Linked DNA regions of Homo sapiens: region 2 is reported to be linked to region 1. The links are microRNA targets in miRTarBase. Many come from high-throughput screens and were not tested one by one. Region 1 holds a microRNA gene; the other region holds the end of a gene's coding sequence.
What was found. Region 1 holds the annotated microRNA hsa-miR-6883-5p (AGGGAGGGUGUGGUAUGGAUGU, at 1,635-1,656, opposite strand). A microRNA usually pairs through its seed, bases 2 to 8, with sites in the 3' UTR of a target mRNA and lowers its output. Matches are read on the target gene's strand: a 7mer-m8 pairs with bases 2 to 8, a 7mer-A1 pairs with bases 2 to 7 and ends in A, and an 8mer does both.

Region 1 (4,067 bases):
GAGTTGAACAGTGGAGAGTCCGGGCGGTGAGGAGGACTCGGGGCGAGGGCGGGCAAGGATGGAGAAGGGGAGTGCGAGGCAGGAGTGGGAGGCCCTTCAGCAGGGGTCTGGAGTGCCCCATAAGGATAGCTGGATGGGGTTGGGAACAGATAGTTAGGGAGCACCAAGGCCACCATTGGGGTCACCAAAGGGGCGGGGAAAGCAGCTGGGGGCACAGATGTGGGAGCAGGGGGAAGAGGCTGGGGGCCTCCTCGAGGAGAGAACACTGGGAGAGGGTAGGGCTGGACAACCGCTGGGAAGGGGGTAGTGGCTGGTGGGGTGGGCCAGGGGGTGGAGGGTGGCACGGGTGAGGGGTGTGAGACATAGCAGGGCGCTTCAGCCCGAGGGTTCTGGTGGTGGCGTGAGCGCTTGGCTTTGGATCGGCAGTGGTGTCGGCGGCTTGGGGGTGCGGGGCCGTGGTGGCAGCCTGTGGGGAGAGACTAGGGTTAGCAAGGACCTCAACCTGGGGTTAGTACCCCTGCTACCCACACTGCCCTGACACGCTGACCAGGGAGAGGACAGGCCAAGGTCCCAGAGAGAGCTTCTCAACCCACACAGAACGGGGGACTCAGGAGGTGGGGCACCTTCAGGGAAGAATCACAGGAGCCAGGGACAAGGGGATTTATTGAGAAAGGAACAAGGCCAGGGAGAGGTTACACGAGGGGTCGAGCTGGGGGTGTGCGGAAGATGGAGGCATGCTGGCAGATGGAGGAAGCAGGGTGAGTCCATGGACACATGGACAGATGGCTCTGGTCCGCCAAACTCCTGTGGGCACTGCCAGCCTAGGCATTCCTCCTGCCCATCGAGGCCGTATTCTGCCTAGCTTGCAATGGAGTGAAGAGTGGGGCTGGAAAGCCCAGTCCTGAGTCCTGCGTCTGCCTGCAGGGGATCTCCCTCAGGCACCTGGAGGGGCTGCCTTCCACCTGCCCTTGAAGCCCAGACCCCACCCAGAGTTGGCCCAGAATCTATGCATGTCTCTTCATCAGTGACAACTGACTCCTAAGTGGGCATACTTCCTGCCCCTGCCCCCAGGCTAGGCCTGAAGTCGCTTACCTGGAGACAGCACCTCTGCCTGCCCATCCCAGTGCCATCCCCCCAGGCTGCCCTCCTCTGGCTGCAGCCCGGAACCCCATCCTAGTGGGGAGAAGCTAGCGAGGGGCCTGTCCCTAGGCAGGGCCTAGTGGTGGAAGCAACACCAGCCTGGGTCCCTGGAGCAGAAACACCTCCCTTAAGACCCACCCCCCAACAATCCAGTCCTAGACTGGGCAGAGGGCAGGCTCCAGGAGGCCCCAGGTGGCTACCTCGCTCGCCAAGGGCTGAGGGAGCTGTGGAAGAGCTGTCGAGTCCACGCAGCCTGCCCAGGTCTCGGAAGCGGCTGAGGAAGGCTTGCTCTTCCTTCTGTGTGTGCAGGGACAGCACGGCCTTGGTCAGCCCCACTGGACGGTAGGCGTCTGGGGCTGGGTCAGGGGCTACTGTGGGGCTGGGGGCTGGGCTGGGGGCTGGGCCTGGGGCTAGGCCAGGCAGGTCCTCCATCATGATGATGTCTGAGGAGAGTGAGATAGGGAAAGGTCATCAGAACCACTTCAGGGGTCAACACATCCATACCACACCCTCCCTGTCTGATAGCCTAGCCAACCCCTGGCAGCTCTGCCCCACAGCCAAGCCTGGTCTCCATGTACGTTTCTTGGTCACCTCTCTGCCAACGGCTGGCCCTGGGTCCTCCTCTCCATGCAAAGCTGGCCCAGAAGAAGAGACGATACTCAGGCCCCTCCAGTGGCCACTCCCTGCCAGGAACTCTACTGGGATGACCCCGTCACAACTCTCATTGGAAGAGAAGCCCACCCCTTGGCCTTCCCTCACACATTTTCTTGTTTCTTTTTTTTTTTTTTTTTGACATGGAGTCTCACTCTTTCTCCCAAGCTGGAGTGCAGTGGTGCGATCTCAGCTCACTGCAACCACCACCCCCTGGGTTCAAGCGATTCTCCTGTCCCAGCCTCCCGAGTAGCTGGGACTACAGGCGCGCGCCACCACGCCCGGCTAATTTTTGCATTTTTAGTAGATACAGGGTTTCACCATGTTGCCCAGGCTGATCTCGAGCTCCTGATCTCAGGTGATCCTCCTACCTCAGCCTCCCAAAATGCTGGGATTACAGGCCTGAGCCACCATGCCCAGCCCCTCATGATTTTCAAGGTCAATATCCAAAGACCCTTCAGGGATGTTCAATTTTCCTTGCCTTCAGACCCTGTGTGGTCAGCACCTCAGGGCAAACCCTCTATCCCAGACTCTGTGTTTCAACTGACAGTAACAATACGAGAAGCAGAACAGGGGAAGGGCAAAGCCGAGAAGCCTGGCAGGGAGGGGAGAGCAAGAAGCAGTAGCCCCAAGCCCCAGGTCAAGGGAGGCCTCCTTCTCTCCATCAGGCCCTAGAGGGGAGGGGAAAGGCAGGAGGGAGCTCTAGCTGGGAGACCGGTGGAGCCCAAGCACTGCCCCCCAATTCCACACCCATACCCGACTCCGGGGGCTTCTTGTCTCCCACATGGACGATGGTGGAGCTGAAGCTACACTGACTGGTGACGGACACCACACTCTCCGCCTTATTGGCCAGGGCGAGCGGGCTCAGGGTGCCTCCCACCACTGGCTCCTTCCGTGGGGTGGCCCCCTCCCCAGACAGCGCTGCTGACGGCGGATCTGTGCAGAGAGATGGTGCCAGTTACCATCCCCACCCCCACTGGGAAGTCAGGAGAGAGGATCCCAGGGAAAAGGGGAAGGGGATGGTGGTAGGGAACAGAGGGAACAGTCTGGAGACCAGGAGGCTGGGGAGGAGAGCAGGGCAGAGCAAGAGGGCCCAGAAGCAGAAGGGAAAAGACACAGGGCCACCAGGCCAGGACGGGGCAGTGGGAGCAGGGTGCATTGGATCTTTACCTTTCTTGGTCCCCACAGAGACTGGACCTGTCCTCTGCCTGTCGTCGTCAGAGGCTGAGGAGGTGGTATAGGAGGAGGAGGAGGCACATTTACGCTTAGTGGTGCTGGGGAGGTTGCAGCTCTCCAGGTACCTGGGGATGGACACAGCACAGGGCATCAGAGCAGGGCTTGGGGTGGGCAGGGTTAGAGCCCGAGGTGGAGAAGATGCCTGGCAGGCCTTACCTGAGGATGCTGTCCAGGCAGTTGATCTGCTGGTAGGAGCAGCTGGAGGCTTCTTTCCTCTCGGCCTCCTCAGGGACCAAGGCTAGTGGGGCCTGGACGGGAGCAGAACCCGCCTCCAGCTCTGGGTCTGGGGATTGGCAGGGAAGGGCCTTGGCCTTGAACGTGCCTGTAGCTGGGGCAAAGAGAGAAAGAGGAAAATAGCCTTCTCAAGCTCACATGGAAAAAAACAGCAAATGGGTTGGGGGTGAAGGTCAGGGGACCCCCCAGGTCTGTCTCTTCACCCACACATCATCATCAACTCACCAGGGAGGCGGGGCCGGGACTGAGGCCGGGCCCGAGACTCAATAAAAAGCTGCTGGCCCTGGTGCTTCACCAGATGCACATCCTTACAGATCTGCTGGAAAGTCACCTGTGGGACACAGCACCACAGTGAGCAGAACCAGGGGGTGTCGCCAGTGTCAGGGGCCAAGGGCACAATAAAACAAGAAGGTACCAGTGGGGAGGCACAGACGCCTTGATGGGAGCAGGACAAGAAGGAAAAGGCAGGAAGGAGAGGGCAAAGGAGGATCGGGCAAGACTCTGGGACTGGCAGTGCTGGTTCCAAGAAGGAGAGGGGAAAGGGCGATTAGAGGGTGAGGTAGGAGCAGGTCACTCACTGGCGCAGGAGGCCCAGGCCCCTCTGCATCACCCCCGTTGCTATCACTGGAGGACCCAGGGCTGTGGAGAGGGCCTGGGGATGTCACGGCGCCGACTCCACAGAGTCCCGTGGGGCTGGGGCTGTGGACGGGCTGCAGCAGGGAGAGGGCAGGTTAGATGGCTTGACCCGGCTTCCCACACCTTTTCTCACCTCCCAGGCTCCCTCTCCGCTACTCTCACCTGCAGCA
Region 2 (4,059 bases), not on the chromosome of region 1:
AAGAAAAACATATTAGTATTTATACCTTGCTTTGTTCTCCCAAAGTATGATTTCAACAAATTTCCTTCCTTAGAGATGTCACTGAGGGCCGAGATGTGTACATAACATACCCATCAACAAGAATGATGTGCCAGGAACCTACAAAGAGTTACAAAACAGGGAGAAGGGAGTTCATTTGTATTTGGGTGGAGAGGGGAATGTGGAGGTAGCTCTGAGCTGGTCGTTGAAGATGAGCAGGATTTTGAAGAGCTGGGGAAAAGGACATTCCTGGAGGCAGAAAGGCAGCATGTGCTAGACCAGAGGGACAGGAAACACCCATCTTTTTAACTCTCCTGGTCACCAATGTCTTGTGTTTCAGAAGAAAGCCAGCCGCCACATAAAAGGTGAAGACAAGAATAAAGCCACTAGTAGAAGCATCGGATTAGACACAACCTCGTCACAACCTGCAGAGAGCAGACACCTGCCTGAGGAGTGCCGCCTTTCTCCCTCCCGGGAATGCTGGACAAAGGAGGGAAGGCTGGCACAGCACAACAGCTTCTCTGGGTTCAGCAGCAGTGACAACGTCCTCCGGGAATTAGACGACGGACAGTTTGATCAGGAAGATGGAGTGACTCAGGTCACTTGTATGTGAGCCATGAGGTGAAGCAAAGGAAGGCCCTGTAAATAATTGTTAAAATCATTGCCAACTGACCTTATTGTATTACTTTCTCTGCATTTATGTAATATTTTTGAATTTTTCCAGACCCAGCCTTTCCTCTAATCTATGTAAACTTTGGCACAACCTCCCAGACAAGGAAGAATAACCAACATATTTATACATTTAGAATCATGTTTACACTTCTCTCAACTAAAACATCTGGTTAAACAGATGTTCCATTCGGTTATTACACAATAATCTATTTCAGCTTCTCATGAATGTACAAAGTAGACTTTCTTACAATTCCTGGTAAGGAGACTGAATATCTCAATCAGTATTTTACCCAATTAGAGAGAGTTCTCAGGAAGTTACAGTCTTATTTAAGCTGAAAAATAACCTCTCTCTCTCTTTTTTTTTCTCTCTCTCTCATACACACACACAGCTAATTAGTGCAAATAAATATCTATTTCCCAAATATAATAATTAATCCACATTTTGTCTTTAACTATAGCATGTATATACAAAGCAAGCCCCTATGTGTTAAAATATTTTTTGAAAAAAATCTTTTTTATGTATCTTTGCTTTTAAAGGGTCATGTCACCAACCCTGTACTGATTCATTGTACATAAATGTTGTTGCTCCTAAAAGCCTAAAAATGCAGACAGCAAAGCAGCATCTCTTAAAATTCAATATGAAAAGAACCCATAATCTCAATACATAAATACCTTAGTAGAGAGTAAGATTTAATTTTTTTTTATTTTAAAGTCCAAATACTATGAAGAGGAAAAATATCAACTTCAATTTGAAACTGAAGTCTTTTACATCTGTCTAGATTTGAATTCTGCTTTTATTTTGACTTGTTAAATCCTGAAGAATGTTGAAACCTAGAATTTTCAATCTGGCAGGAGTAGAAAGATGCTCATAGCACACGCGATATGTATGATAACATATTTTGTTTCATCTTGCTTTTCTTTCCCCTTCTAATAGAGGTGGCTTTGCCTTGACCCAGCCTTTAACAATCTTTAAAATTCTACAAAATAAAGGATTTTCATTTATCTATGAAAGGCTTACTTTGAAAGATGGAACCTCCAAGTGAATTACAACTTATTCTATCATTGATGAATTCAGCCTATTATATATTTTTATTAACATTGATGTTGACATTGTAAGATCATTTTAATAATAAAACATCATTTTTATTGTGTTATTGTTTTATTGAACACAAATATTCATATAATATGTTTGGTTTGGGGGTTTTTTGTGGCTTTTTTTGAGACGGAGTCTCACTCTGTCACCCAGGCTGGAATGCAGTGGCACAGTCGCAGCTCACTGCAACCTCCACCTCCTGGCTTCAAGCGATTCTCCTGCCTCAGCCTCCAGATTAGCTGGAACTACAGCCAGTGTGCGCCACCACGCCCAGCTAATTTTTGTATTTTTAGTAGAGATGGGGTTTCACCATGTTGGCCAGGATGGTCTCGATCTCTTGACCTCATGATCTGCCTGCCTTGTCCTCCCAAAATGCTGGGATTACAGGCGTGAGCCACCATGCCTGGCCTTCATATAATATGTTTTATACATATAACAGATATGTATTACATGTTATCAATTATATAGTGTATCTAAACTAAGTCAATCTCCATTAATTGCTGATAAAATTAACAGGAATTATTCCACTTTTATCATCCAGAAGTACAGTATAAAGGAATTTAAGAATATTCTTCTCAGTCTTATTCTATAGCAATAGCTGTCAACAATATTTGCAGAAATGGTTTTTGTTTTGACTTTTAGATGGACTTGAGTTCCATAATCAAGAGTTAGTGGATTTTTGGTAGAAACAATCACTGCTTCAGGAGTCCATAAAACGTAATGAAGTTAGGAAGCACAAAGAACAAATCAGAAAGATCTGTTTTTCCCAATTCCAGGGTCTACAAGAGGTAGAGACTTCTTTATCATTCAGCCCACATACATAGGGGATTGGAAGTAGTAAATTAAAAACAGAGATAGGAATTTATATTTGACTAAGAAAAAACTCAGAAATATAGCAATAACTTTTTTTTTTTTTTTTTTTTTTTGAGACAGAGCCTCACTCTGTCACCCAGGCTGCAATCTCGGCTTACTGCAACCTCCGCCTCCCAGGTTCAAGTGACTCTCCTGCCTCAGCCTCCTGAGTAGCAGGGATTACAGGCCTGCACCACCATGCCTGGCTAAGTTTTGTAATTTTAGTAGAGATGGGGTTTCACCATGTTGGCCAGGCTGGTCTCGAACTCCTGGCCTCAAGCAATCCACCCACCTTGGCCTCCCAATGTGCTGGGATTACAGGTGTGAGCCACTGCACCCAGCCAAGCAATCGCTTTTTTAAAAAATTTGTGTAAGCATACTTTCTCAGTTTATTTTTTTCTCCCCTCCCGTTTATTTTTAATCTGAGTTATTTCTTATTAAAATAACTTTTATTAAAATAAACTTACTAGTCTGTCATATCCTCAAAACTTGTTTTAGAAGCATTTGCTCCAACAATTACCCTTAAGTTATGTGATGAATTTGTATGATAGCGAATAATTTATGATCAAGTGGTTCTAGAGTATTTTAAATGTGTGTAAATAGCTATGAGCCTATTATTTTAAAAAAAGAAAAAAACTTGGGCTCTCTATGCCTAAGGAGTTAAATATGTCTAATTTTATTATCTGCCAGTTGTATATTCAGTTCTTTTTATAACACTATGATTTCCTTAGGGGCTCTGGCATGTGAATTTTTAAAACCTGTAAGTTATAATGAAAGGTATCAAGATCCCAGATGTTGGGTGAAGATCTGCCATTCCCCTTGGTGTAGTATCTATGGCATTTTCATCTTCGTTTTCAATACCAAGTGTTAATTCCATCCCCTTTGGATTGTATACCACCTTGTTATCTTTTATGGACACATTTAACACCTACCTAATCACCAGGGAAATCAGCTCTATCAGTGTCATTACAATTCATTTCAGTAAAAGAGAAAAGGAAAGGTCACCCTCTTTGAGAGATTCTAGGGCTTTCAGGAGGAGGAGAAGCAGGAGACAGAGCTACAGTCTATTCAAATCACAACTATCTCCAAATCATTTGTGTTATCAGGAGCAGGTGTTTATATATTTGAATATAAATGTAACAGATGCATTTTCATTTCTTTCATTCTGGAGTGCCAGAGGAGCTGTCCCGTTTTCCCGCCCTTGCCTGTTATTGATTCCTCACCACCATTCCTTCTTGGCTGGAAGGACTGTGGCCCTTTCCCTCCCCATATGGCTAAAGAGGATTTCTTTCTCTTAACTCTTCAGAGCCCCAGAGTAGTACTGTATGGAAAGTGTAAATTCAGATGGAGAATCAAATGAAGTGAAATTGCTAACAATGGGGATAGTATATAACTAAGAACACATTATATAAAAATGTACTAGT

Region 2: miRTarBase lists RFTN2 as a target of hsa-miR-6883-5p. Seed matches in the 3' UTR shown: 7mer-A1 at 782-788, 7mer-A1 at 2,147-2,153, 7mer-A1 at 2,766-2,772, 7mer-A1 at 2,933-2,939, 7mer-m8 at 3,038-3,044 and 7mer-m8 at 3,896-3,902.

The regions. Positions count from the first base shown.
Region 1 is chr17:8,143,411-8,147,477 of GRCh38, forward strand. MIR6883 (microRNA 6883) reads right to left here and starts at 1,661; the gene lies at 1,584-1,661. It overlaps PER1 (period circadian regulator 1), which reads right to left. Exons shown (of 23, transcript NM_002616.3): 12 at 4,060-4,067; 13 at 3,840-3,971; 14 at 3,487-3,592; 15 at 3,184-3,355; 16 at 2,962-3,092; 17 at 2,548-2,727; 18 at 1,341-1,583; 19 at 1-466.
Region 2 is chr2:197,568,580-197,572,638 of GRCh38, reverse strand. It overlaps RFTN2 (raftlin family member 2), which reads left to right. Exons shown (of 9, transcript NM_144629.3): 9 at 359-4,059. The coding sequence ends at 631. It overlaps LOC124907952 (a long non-coding RNA gene), which reads right to left. Exons shown (of 2, transcript XR_007087918.1): 2 at 1-657. Among named protein-coding and RNA genes, the nearest start is that of MOB4, 55 kb to the right of the region's middle.